Linked DNA regions of Homo sapiens: all the other regions are reported to be linked to region 1. The links are microRNA targets in miRTarBase. Many come from high-throughput screens and were not tested one by one. Region 1 holds a microRNA gene; each other region holds the end of a gene's coding sequence.
Evidence for each region. The annotated mature microRNA hsa-miR-520d-5p reads CUACAAAGGGAAGCCCUUUC and lies in region 1 at 2,219-2,238, shown strand. An mRNA with a match to its seed (bases 2 to 7 or 8) in the 3' UTR can be bound and repressed. Matches are read on the target gene's strand: a 7mer-m8 pairs with bases 2 to 8, a 7mer-A1 pairs with bases 2 to 7 and ends in A, and an 8mer does both.

Region 1 (3,184 bases):
AATGGGCTTAGGTCCTTTTGCCTCCACCTCTCCCCAGTCCTTAGTAGCTGGGACTACATGTGAATATTAACCATGCACAGGCAAGAGGAAAGAAAGGACCGTTCTTTGGTTCACACCTAGCCGCCAGTCAAATTAGTATTTTAGATGAAGACTGCATTTGAGACATACTTGAACAACAAATGATTTGCTGTTTAGGTGTGGGCATCTTTCTTTTTTCCTAGTTTTAATAATGGCACCAGGCAGAGTACAGTGGCCCACGCCTGTAATTCCAGCACTTTGGGAGGCTGAGACAGGAGGATCACCTGAGGTCGGGAATTTGATTCCAGCCTGGCCAACATGGTGCAGCCCCATCTCTACTAAAAATACAAAATTAGCCCAGCATGGTGGTGGTATATGCTTGTAATCCCAGCTACTCTGGAGGCTGAGGCAGGAGAGTCGCTTGAAGCTGGAAGGCTGATCTTTCAATGAGCTGAGATCACGCCACTGCACTCAAGCCTCGGCAAAAAGAGTGAGACTCCATCTCAAAAACATAAAAAATAGGCCAGACACGGTGGTCCACTCCTGTAATCCCAGCACTTTGAGAGGCCAGGACAGGCGGATCTCCTCAGGTCAGGAGTCCAAGACTAGCTGGGCAAACAAGGCAAAACCTCGTCTATACTAAAATTAGGAAAAATGGCTGGGAACAGTGGTGGACACCTGTAATCTCAGCTACTTGGGAGGCCACGGCAAGAGAATCTCTTGAACCTGGGAAAAGGAGATTGCAGTGAGACGAAATCACACCATTGTACTCCATCCTGGGTGACAGAGTGAGATTCTGTTTCAAAAATTAAATAAATAGGCCGAGCACAGTGACTCATGCCTGTAATCCCAGAACTTTGGGAGGCCGAGGTGGCGGATCACCTGAGGTCGGGAGTTCAAGACCAGCCTAACCAACACGTAGAAACCCCATCTCTACTAAAAATACAAAATTAGCCGGGCATGGTGGCGCATGCCTGTAATCCCAGCTGCTCGGGAGGTTGAGGCAAGAGAATCACTTGAACCCCAGGGGGCGGAGGTTGTGGTGAGCCGAGATTGTGCCATTGTATTCCAGCCTGGGCAACGAGTGAAACTCTGTCTCTAAATAAATAAATAAAACTATTAAATAAACATTAAACGTTAAAAAATAAAAATAGATAAATATGAGATCATCATGAATTTGAGTGTCACCTTTGCGCAGGGCCCATGGTAATCTTTGTCATTCCAATTTTTTCATGCGTGCTGCCAAAGCTAGCACTTGTGTGTAGGAAGTATTCTTCCTGTGAGCATACAATATATGGAAGTTTCTTTTATTATTATTATTTTTTATGTTTTTGCGACTGAGTTTTGCTCTTGTCGCATAGGCTGAAGTGCAATGGTGTGATCTGGGCTCCCTGCGATGTCCACCTCTTGGGTTAAAGCGACTCTCCTACCTCAGCCTCCTGAGTAGCTGGGATTACAGGCATACACTTCCAGGGCTAGCTAATTTGTTGTATTTTAGTAGACGGGATTTCTCCATGTTGGTCAGGCTGGTCTCAAACTCCCGACTTCAGGTGATCTGCCCACCTTGGCTTTCCAAAGTACTGGGATTGCAGACAGCCACCGCGGCTGGCCTTCATATATTCTTATATATATAATATCATGTACACACAAAAGACTCTTTTACACCCTGAGAATACTCTTATATCACTTTGGGCATTTTTTTGTTGGTGTGTGCATTTTTTGTTTGTTCGTTCGTTTGTTTTTGAGACAAGATCTGGCCCTGTCACCTATGCTGGAGTGCAGTGGTGTGATCTCGGCTCCCGGCAACCTCAACCTCCCACCTCAGCCTCCTGAATTAGTGTCTACAGGCATGCACCTCTATACCTGGCTAACTTTTGTATTTTTACAGATGAGGTTTTACCATGTTTCCCAGGCTGGTGTCTAACTCCTGAGAATATAAGGTATATGTAGTAGGCGTTGCTTTTTCTCTTTGAAGACAAAACCCAGGACAGTTGTCCCTCGATGAACAAGGCTAACCTGCTGAACGTTTGAAGCAAGGAACTGGAGATGGTCTTTGTATCGGTTTATGTTCTAGATTCCAGAAAATATGCAAACAGGACCAATAAATGCATCTTTATTTTTGTGTCCATTTTGACCAGGTCAAGGAAAATTTCAACAAGAAACCCAGAGTGCCGGAGCAAGAAGATCTCAAGCTGTGAGTCTACAAAGGGAAGCCCTTTCTGTTGTCTAAAAGAAAAGAAAGTGCTTCTCTTTGGTGGGTTACGGTTTGAGAAAAGCAACGTTGAAGTTGATGCTGATTTCGGTAATACATTTGCAGAGCATGCTTATCACACTTGGACGATGGTGGGGTTCTGTTTTGGTTTTGCTTTTTTATTCTAAGGCTCTGTGTTGCTCATGCTGGAGTGCAGTGACATGTCCAATATATCTCTTGGCTTCAAATGGTCAGCCTGGGCAACACAGGGAAATTCTGTCTCAAAAAATAAACAAATGAATAAAAATACAAAATAAAGCCGGGCATGGTGGCTCATGCCTGTAATCCCAGCACTTTGGGAGGCCGATGCAGGTAGATCATCTCAGGTCAGGAGTTTGAGACCAGTCTGACCAACGTGGTGAAAATCCGTCTCTACTAAAAATACAATAACAACAAAAATTAGCCCAGTGTGGTGGTGGGCACCTGTAATCCCAGCTACTTAGGAGGCTGAGGCAGGAGAATTGCTTGAACCCGGGAGGCAGAGGCTGCAGTGAGCCGAGATTGTGCCACAGCATCCAGCCAGGATGACAGAGTGAGATTCCGTCTGAAAAAAAAAAAAAAAAAAAAAAGCTGGGCGCTGTGGCTCACGCCTGTAATCCCACCACTTTGAAAGGCCGAGGCGGGTGGATCACGAGGTCAGGAGATCGAGACCATCCTGGCTAACACGGTGAAACCCCATCTCTATTTAAAAATACAAAAAATTAGCGAGGCGTGGTGGTGGGTGCCTGTAGTCCCAGCTACCCGGGAGGCTAAGGCTTGAGAATGGCTTGAACCCAGGAGGCGGAGCTTGCAGTGAGCCGAGATCGTGCCATTGCACTCTAGCCTCGGCAACAGAGCAAGACTCCGTCAAAAAGAAACAAAAACAAAAACAAAAAAAAGAACCCTACAGTACTGGAGCAAGAAGACCTCATGCTG
Region 2 (3,184 bases), not on the chromosome of region 1:
AGTTACATTGACTGTTGACTTATGAAAAGCTTGTCAGCCAACCTGTGCATGGATGCCCTCCTCAGCACTTAGAATTGTTCATTCCCTTGTTTTTCCAAAGGGTCTGGTCTGATCTAATCAACTGGCTAACCTAGAACCCAGTATTAACAAGCAATGTTCCCACCCAGACAGTGGTCTACAAATACCATTATTTCTAAGGGAGCCAAGGTTCTTTGGGGGAAATGGCCCCTCCAGGTCTGAGGAAGAAAATGAGCAAGATGAAACACCCCGTCACACAAGAAATCGAAGAGTGATCAGATTATTGAGACCTGCTATGGTAGGAGCAAGCTTGAAGGGGATTCCCTTGGTCAAAAAGAAAATATCAGCACCAAAAAAACACAGTGGGTTGATATACATACAAATACATGAAAATCTGAATTAAGGATAAATTCACTGATTCCTTTTCACAGGCTGCTAGGTATCAATCCATCACTCTAAAAATTGGCCAAAAAAAAAATCACATTAATATCATTTCCAGCCAGATGTGATGGCTCACACCTGTAATCCTAGCACTTTAGGAAGCTGAGGTGGGAGATCACTTGAGCCCAAGAGTCCAAGACCAGTCTGGGCAACATGGCAAAACCACCGTCTTGACAAAAAAGTTAGTTGGGCATGGTGGCACCAAAAAAAAAAAAAAAAAAGTACTTTCCAGTGAGGCAATCAACATACCATCCTCTCTTGAGTCTTCATTAAAATAAAGGTATAGAAAAACATGGACAGATATGGATAGAGGATAGAGGATACTGAATTAATGAAGGAAACCACAACCCACAGTAAACAATTAGAACACATATATGACACCCAGAAACTGGTTATGAGACAAGATAGTACTGTACCCAAACTTTTCTCCACTCTCCAAAGTGGAGAACTATCCTAGAAGTGAGAAGGGTTAACATCTACAGATCCGATTCAAAATACAACTATCAGCCTAGTTAACAAATGCCAACCTGCTAAATGAAACAGGCTACTAGAAAGTTAAAGGCAAAAACACATAGGATGAAAACCTGTCTGGGCACACTGGCTCACGCCTAATGCCAGCACTTTGGGAGGCTGAGGCGGGCAGATCACTTGAGGTCAAGAGTTCGAGACTGGCCAACATGGCGAAACCATCTATACTAAAATATATGTATATTTTAGTATATCTATATACTATATATTTATATATTTATTTATTTTTATATGTATATACAAACTTAGCCAGGTGTGGTGGCACACACTTGTAATCCCAACTATTTTGGAGGCTGAGACAGGAGACTGCAGTGAGCTCAGATCGCACCACTGCACTCCAGCCTAGGTGACAGACGAGAATAGGTCTCAAAACAAGAAAGAAAAAAAATTCACGATCACTTCAAAATGTTGGAATAAATAAAATGTTGAGTAATGTTTTTTAGATTTCAGATACACGCCCAAAGCAGCAAGCAGTTGGTATATTAAAATCAACACAAAAATTTAAAGACAAAATCAAAGTCTCTTTCCCAAGTTTAAACAAAAAGGAATGAGAAAAACCATCCAAGACAATCAAACCAGACTAAGAATGGATAGAAGTGGGAGATGAAAATCTCCCAAGGAAAACGGCACAGAACTGGAGAACATTCCCTCACCTACTCAAACTACTGGAGTATAAAGCACAACAAAACAATAGAAATCAAATCAGTATATCTGACTCAGATCATGTAATCAGCTTAAGGCAGAACATATAAAGGTGCTAATTAGTCTCTGAATATCCTCATTATCTACGTGATAAATTTTCTCCTATACATCTGTAAGAAGTACTAGGCAACTTGAGCAAATAGTCACTGAAATAATTGCTTTGATTCAGATAAGGAATCCAGGTTGAGGTCAGGTGCAGTTGCTCACACCTATAATCCTAGCACTTTAGGAAGCCGAGGTGGGCAGATCACTTGAGCTCAGGAGTTCGAGACCAGCCTGGCCAACAAGGTGAAACCCCATCTCTACTAAAAATACAAAAATTAGCCGGGCTGGTGGCTCACACCTGTAATCCCAGCTACTTGGGAGGCTGAGGCAGGAGACCTGCTTGAACCCAAGAAGCAGAAGCTGCAATAAGCTGAGATTGTGCCACTGCACTCCAGCCTAGGGGAAAAAACCATACAGGTTGAAAGGCTGCTTTTAAGCTGTTTTAACATGCCACATTTTCTTTGCAAGTGAGGCTAGAATAGGCAGATAGGAGGTCTAATGGAACATTTGGAAACATGTTGCATAGTTATAATAATTGTTAACTATCATCAGGAGGTGGGAACACAGCACTAAATCCTTATGATGAAAAAGTGGTTAGCTCCAGAGAGAATATTGAAGGGGAGGGCAGGGACATTCTCATAGAATTTTACAAGACTATTTGCCATTCCTAACTACATTAATTATTTCTTTGACAAAGTATAAAGCAGTTAAATAAGTCAATAGAAACCGTGCTACTTTATTAAAATACTGAGTTTTATTTCACATGTATATTTTTGTCTCCCCACCATTTCCATGTCTGACCACCGCTACTACTATGTCCTATCATAACATTCCATACATACTTAAAACCAAGCAAAGGGTGGAGTTCCATCTTTAAAAACTAAACAGGCATTTTGGACAACACATTCTTGGCAATAGAACCTGGACAACATTTATCAAACACGGTAGGGAAAGTTCTCACTCTGCATTATAAAAAGGACAGCCAGATATCAACTGTTACAGAAATGAAATAAGACGGAAAATTTTTTAACAAATTGTTTAAACTATTTTCTTAAAGAGACTTCCTCCACTGCCAGAGATCTTGAATAGCCTGGAAAAAAAAAAAAAGAAATGTGGTTAAGGAACCACAACACTTCATAGACATCAATAAATTAAATGTCTCTTTGCATAGTTCAACATCTATTTTTCATTCTACCACCAGAGAGTTAACTCTAGATAAAGATATGACTCCAAGAAAATTTATACTCAGATGTAATTTAATTCCAAACACTTTAATCAGTCATAAAAATGTGAACAATATACTAATAATTATTTAATAGTTTAGCATTATTTACTTAAGGAAATCAACAGAAAGAACAGAGACCCATATGGCCAATGTTACTTCCAACTTCATCTCCCGAGATCAGCTTTAGAGTTGGCCAGATTTGGCAAATAAAGTTACATAAACACC
Region 3 (3,184 bases), not on the chromosome of region 1:
GTGGCCACAAAGACTTGGAAGCTCAAAATTTGAAACATCAAAATTAAACACAGACCCAATTTCTTTGCATTTTTAGTCCTGTATTCTATGTTTGACAAAATCACTGTAAAATAAAGCAGCAGTAAGAAAAGAAGCAGATTCAGAGGACTAAAAGCAGGAACAGATGGGAAAAAAAGGCTGGAAATCCATTCGTTTATTTACTGAGCCTGGTCCAATGTCAACAGAACTAGGATTAACTAGGTTAAGAGTTGGCAAAGGACAGGAAAGCAAAGTAATAAAATTTAAAAGCTGAATTGGTACAGTGTTATGAAGAAGTGTTTATTTAGTATTTATAGTACCAGATTACAGTCACTTGTTGATTTAGATATGAATTTTCATATGTTAGAAGACTCAGGGAAATACACAGGATCCCAAGGAGTGAGACTGAGATTCTGGGTCTTATTAGCTGTACTTTGGGTAATTTACTTAACCCTCTCTCAGCTTCAGTTTCCTCAAATCTAAATTAGGGCTTAACTAATCATTATGTCCTTTGTAAGACTGGAAATGTGGATTAGCAGTTAGACAGTATGTATGTACCCAGTTTTGTAGATATGCTGGGACATAGTAGGTGTTCAATAAATTATACATATACCTGAATAAACAAACTATACATAAATATTTTATAAATTATACATATAATCGAACATCATTTAGGTAAACTCTTTAATGAAAGACATTTATTGTCAGATTATAAAATCAGTGTTGATGATAAGCCCTCCTACCCACAAAACAAAAATCGTATGTATGAAATTCCCTTTCCCGTAAGTTATGTGCCTGTCAGCCATCCCACTTCAGTCCATCTTTGGATGCTGAGGCTCTGGTTGCCAGTCCTTATCTCTACACCTGTCCCTGGTCTAGAGGAGAAACGAAGGTGCTCTGAGGCCCCTGTAACAGAGACCCTTGTCATCCATATTTGCAATAAAGACATCATGGAGGCTGTGCAAAAGTATCCTTCTCCCCAACTTCTGCAGGCACCATTTCCATCTCACTACCCAGAGGTACATCAGAGAGCAGGAGCCAGGCAGGTGACAAAGATGTGGAAGGCTTCTAAGTGGTTGGCTTTGCCGTCTCAGAAGTGCGAAGAAATGAAAATCCATCAAAACAGAATGCCATTCCATGTTTCAGGCTTTTACCTCACCTCAAATCAAATGTCTGTTCTTTATTTATTGGTCCCATAAGTAGACACGCACTTGGACTTCTGGTTTTAGAACATTCTATTGTTATCCTTTCTCCTTTTAATAAACACACACTAGTTTCGAGGAATCTCCCTAATAATCCTGGCCTGACATGCTGCAGAACTTCAATTTCATAATTTTACTAACAACAGAGGAATTTCATCTTATTATTACCAACTACCACATTAAAGGATCTGAAACAGTAATTCATGCATAATTCTATTTAATAATGGTTTTCAAAGTACTTTGCTGTTTGAAAATGCTTCCCAGATGATTCTGATCGGAGAGTTGGGAACCACTGCCCTAGACTGTAACCACTCAATTGAACTTTACTCAGTGCTGCTTCCCTGCCCACTTCAAGTAAACAATGCTTAACTTTTTCGTTTCTAAAACAACTGAGATTACTTTCTCCCCCTTAGTTTCTACAATGATTGTTGAAAATTTGTGGGAAAAGTTTATCCTTACAAATGAAAACATGAAATCTGAAGTGGATAAACTAACTTTTAAGAAATACATATCCTTACTCAGTAAGCTGAGGCAGGAGGACCACTTGAGCCCAGGAGTGCGAGGCTTCAATGAGCTATGATTGCACCACTGCACTCCAGCCTGGGCAACAGAGCAAAACTCCTGTCTCTAGAAAAAATAAATACCTATCTTTCAAAACTTGCATAAAAAGCCCTTGTCTTCACTTGTACAGCCTCTTCTGTTTCATGAATGAGCATGCTGAAGGGCTATTTACTCTCCTATGAAAAAATGTTGTTACAGTAAATGACAAGTGTTATGAACACAATGAACCTGGTGTGTTAGATGTTAAGTGTGCTGCCACCCCATGTGAACCTCCAAGTGAAACTGCTCACATAACTGTTTTTTTGCTGCATGCAAACCTGCTAATACAAAGCGGGCTCCTGACTTAAGGACAGCCAATCCCTACTCTAGACAATGACCCAACCAGACCTAGTATAAAAAGGTAGTCTGGCCCAGTTAAATTCCCTTGGCAATTGGAGACTAGCAGCAGGAGCTGAAGGTCATCATGTAGAAAAGAACCTCAAAGGTGCAAGTTAAAGTTATTACAAAGGAACAGAAACTGTAAGTATGCAAAAGCTGTGTAGAGAAGTTGGTGAATAGAGAGAATGGAGTTAACAATGCAAAAAGAAGCAAGTCACATGCATGCAGAGCCCAAGCCTAAACATCCACCTTCCCCTGCTGAGGAGCACCACCCAATTTCTACTCTTCCTGAGGCTGGGAGGTGATTTCTGAGTGGGAGATGGGGTTGGTGAGGTGGTTCCTGAATTCCCTGGCACATATCCTTGAAATAATGTCACATTGCTTGAGCTAACTTGTAGCTTTTGAGTCTTTTTATGTTTGTCCCACTTGAGATTCCTTGCAACTAAAAGAGCATAACTGAAACAACTAGTTAAGCCAATACCATTTGTTAAAAATAATGCACCATTCTAAATTTCTGTTTCCCTAACCAAATCTGGCAAAGTCTGATCCATTAAGTTTTAAAACTTTTCTAAGTTTAATGTTGTCACTGTATGTTTACGTATTCATTGGTACAATTTACATCAAGTTTTGTACTTATCCATTTTTGCAAAGATATGTACACAAAGATACATATCCAATAACTGAGAAACAAGTGAAACTTCTGATCTATACTTTCAGGTTTGTTCGATCATGATACTTCTGATAAGGATCATCAACGTACCAGTTTCGCCTCTTCCAGAAGGACGTCGTCATTTTATCTAAGAGTTTACTCTGGGTTTTATTGCAGAATACAAATTCCCTCAATCGCTTCTTCCTTGCAGGTGTCTTTTTCCATAATTTTTTCTTATAGCCAGCCTGTCAGATATTACAAAGAAATGTAAAACATCATACTATGTATGAAACAACAGGTATCTTCACAACTCAAGGTTTATAGACCCAATAAGAACAAAAACCAGACTTCCATAGGGGCTGGACTATTTCTTGGA
Region 4 (3,184 bases), not on the chromosome of region 1:
ATTAATGTTCATTTCTTCTGAGAAAATACTAGAAAGCTCTGTAAACCATTAATTCAATATTCTGAGACATGTTTATTACTGCTTTTTATGTTGTTGAAGTCTTATTAGAAATAGCCCAGGTGGTTTGATCATGATACAGTGCTACTTGAAAATATATCAAAGGTAAAAATTCTCTCAACTATACCTTGAATGTCTTTTTCCCTGTAGACTTCTGTAGAGAAGTACAATTGTGTTTTAAATGTCTATTTTGAACTTGATGGGATACCATTAATCTATATGTGGTTTGATGTGTAACTTACCTGATATTTTTGTTTTAACTTTTTAGGTCCACTATCCGAGCTTTGATCAAGAATTTTTCAATTGCTTCTTTTTTCCCTGCTTTCATCACACTGCTGTTTTTTCAGCATAATCGAACAGCTTATGACATTGTAGCAGGAACCATTGTGGTAAAAAGAAATGGGGTCAGATGATGCCCCCCAAAACCCTGATTTCCACACACTAAGACTAAATTATGTATCAAGGCCATCAGTATCCCTGGGTTACACTAATTGATGATTTAGAAATTAAAGCAGTCACTCCAGTGTGATGCAGGTGACTACTCTGAAAGTATTGATTATACTTGAATGCCAAAGAACTTGTCCAGAAGAAAAACCTGTTAAATTCAAGTATTAAAATTTTTAGATCAAAAAGGCAAATGATTTTATAAACAATGGACAATATATACTTTCTTAAGATCTAAGGTACTTTCTTAAGATCTAAGAATTTGCTGAAAGCATTTTCAGCTTTGAAATCTCCAAATGAAACTTTAAAATTTATTTTGGTTTATCCCAAAATAATGGAAAATGTCCAGTTGTGTTTTGTAAACACCTATGTAACTCATCTTTTAGTTTACACTTCCTGGGGAAATTGTCTTTGGTGTTTAGAGGAGGGAATGAGAACACAAATTGGATAATCCACTGTCTCCCATCCCAGGAGGTGGTGAGTTGGCTACAAGAGAAAGGGACAAGTGAGGCAGGCCTAGCAGTTCCCTTACCTGAAGTTTTCAAATCCATACTGCAGTTCCCTCTCGTAATGATGTAACTTTACAACTATTCTTAATGCTTGAACATGTATTTAGGGGCAAGTTTCTCATGATGATGAAAAAGTATCAAGTCATATTGCTATGTTAATTGGTTTTTTTTTTTAAAAGGTAAGTTAGTGATTACTGTTAATGGTGGGGGAGTAAGTTTTCACTGTAAATTGAACTTATAATTTATGTGCAAGTGTTTTCAGTGCCCTGAATCAAACTATAAATGTGGGGAGAAATCACCTCCATCAAACAGTTGCATATTTACTGTAAAAGTATTCCCAGTATGTGTGCAGCATGAAGAAAGTATTAGTGCTTCTCAGTGTTCTCAGTGTAAATTCTATTTATATACAGCATATTCACATACTACTTTCCTTATATTTTATATAGTTCTATGACTGTTGAAACATCAAGGAGTTAAAAAAATCTTAATATTTCATGATTAACTCTAAGTACTATTAATTAATAGCTTGCGAAATATTAGCAATTTTCCCATTATGGACTATTCTCTCTAAAGCAAGAGAGACTAGCATTCCCAGACATCATTCTAGGGTCTTTAAGCTCATTTTGGGTCTGCTAAAGTTTGGGGGGAAATGTTACGCAAAGTGATACTGTGTATGTTGCCATTTTGCTTTATTCTTCTGTTGAAGCAAAATTGTGGGGTTTTATTATGTGTGTGTGCTTTTCCTAGATGTCCCAGTTAGCTGTGCTGAGATATACCTGTACTATTTATGGTTTAAGTTTTGATTCTTAGGTATTTTCTCCAGCTCTGACATTGTTTTCCAAAGACACACTAAACTGCATTGCACAGTTCAAAATTTGATTACTTAAGGGATCAATCTAGGTGGTGTTCTTGGTCTTAAATTTAACAGCAAACACAGCACATATCTATTATCACTATATTAATTTTCAAAGGTTTTTCTTTGACGTTTAAAACTGTGACAACAGATATTCACATTTGATTATAGAAACTTAATGTCTATTAATAATTTTAGTACAAAATTTCATAAACCGTGTTTTTCAAAATAAGTTTATGTCAAATCCAGCTTCCCAGAAACACTAATAATTAAGTACATCAATGTACTAAATAAATCATTCAGTTGCACCCATGGGGAAGATTGTGTTACTGCCCTTCACAGTGAAAAAAAGAAAAATCTTTCATTTTTAAAATTAGGAGATGTTACGTAACTTGGCACTTTAGTAGTGTATACACTAGCATTAGTTTATACACCACTTTTGCCGCTGGGGAATTCAAGTTGAAATGTCCCTCAATCATATAGGTCTGGAATACATCTTTCATTCATAATTTCTGCTCAGATAATTGAATAGTTTGCCATCGAGATTATTTTCATTTATACTATAAAACAAAAGCAAACTAGTCCAGTTTAATTTTTTGTACTTAGAATATTGCACATTTTCTATATATGAGTTATTCAGATTAGTATCTATGTAGGTTCAGTCAGATCCAACCATGGATTCGAGGTATTATACTGTATAACCCTACAAAATACATAGAAGTATTATTTGCCTTCATAATAGAACCCAAGAGTCTGTTTCAATTTATGAATTCAGTATTTGCACCGAGATTTTGATTCCCAAAGTTTGGAAAAAAATGACAAAACAACGAGGGAAGAAGGAACCAGACCTTAGTGCCACATATTTTTCTCTTGGGGTTGTAAGGTAGTCTCCTGCTTTCCAGAACACTTTATTATATTTCACTTATAGACCTGATTTTCTGTGTCAAAGTATAATTCTCATGCTGAAGCTGTAGCCTAAAAAGCCAAAAGAAAGTTGTCTTCATTGTACAAACATATTCATCACTTTAACAATAAGGGAACAAAATTTAGTATTCAAGCTGAGTGAGAATACTGTTTCAATGAGCATGTCCCTAAGATAAACCAGAATTGGCAGTTAATTTAGGCGTCTAGAAAATCTCAGTTCCCACCAGTAAAATTATCCTGAGTAGCTAATGCACCTTGAGAAAAATCTGGCATACTGAATAAATAACATTAACTTGGGAGCCAAGAGCTGGGTAAGCCTTACCTTTAGACTACTCTGTGACTACAGAAATAAAGCCAGCACTTTTGGAACTAATAAGCCTTCACTTGTCAGTATCAT

Region 2: the mRNA of NPM1 is a reported target of hsa-miR-520d-5p. The part of its 3' UTR that is shown has no 7-base or 8-base seed match.
Region 3: the mRNA of MRPL35 is a reported target of hsa-miR-520d-5p. Seed matches in the 3' UTR shown: 8mer at 2,282-2,289, 7mer-m8 at 2,106-2,112 and 7mer-A1 at 1,676-1,682.
Region 4: miRTarBase lists FAM8A1 as a target of hsa-miR-520d-5p. Seed matches in the 3' UTR shown: 7mer-A1 at 857-863.

The regions. Positions count from the first base shown.
Region 1 is chr19:53,717,893-53,721,076 of GRCh38, forward strand. MIR520D (microRNA 520d) reads left to right here and starts at 2,204; the gene lies at 2,204-2,290. MIR517B (microRNA 517b) reads left to right here and starts at 3,184; the gene lies at 3,184. It also overlaps the pseudogene RNU6-803P.
Region 2 is chr5:171,410,167-171,413,350 of GRCh38, reverse strand. NPM1 (nucleophosmin 1) reads right to left here. Exons shown (of 11, transcript NM_002520.7): 11 at 2,451-2,824. The coding sequence ends at 2,786. Among named protein-coding and RNA genes, the nearest start is that of FGF18, 7.9 kb to the left of the region's middle.
Region 3 is chr2:86,210,349-86,213,532 of GRCh38, reverse strand. It overlaps MRPL35 (mitochondrial ribosomal protein L35), which reads right to left. Exons shown (of 4, transcript NM_016622.4): 4 at 1-3,053. The coding sequence ends at 2,865. Among named protein-coding and RNA genes, the nearest start is that of MRPL35, 12 kb to the right of the region's middle.
Region 4 is chr6:17,607,870-17,611,053 of GRCh38, forward strand. It overlaps FAM8A1 (family with sequence similarity 8 member A1), which reads left to right. Exons shown (of 5, transcript NM_016255.3): 5 at 326-3,184. The coding sequence ends at 470. Among named protein-coding and RNA genes, the nearest start is that of FAM8A1, 9.2 kb to the left of the region's middle. RefSeq lists a silencer at 2,755-2,955.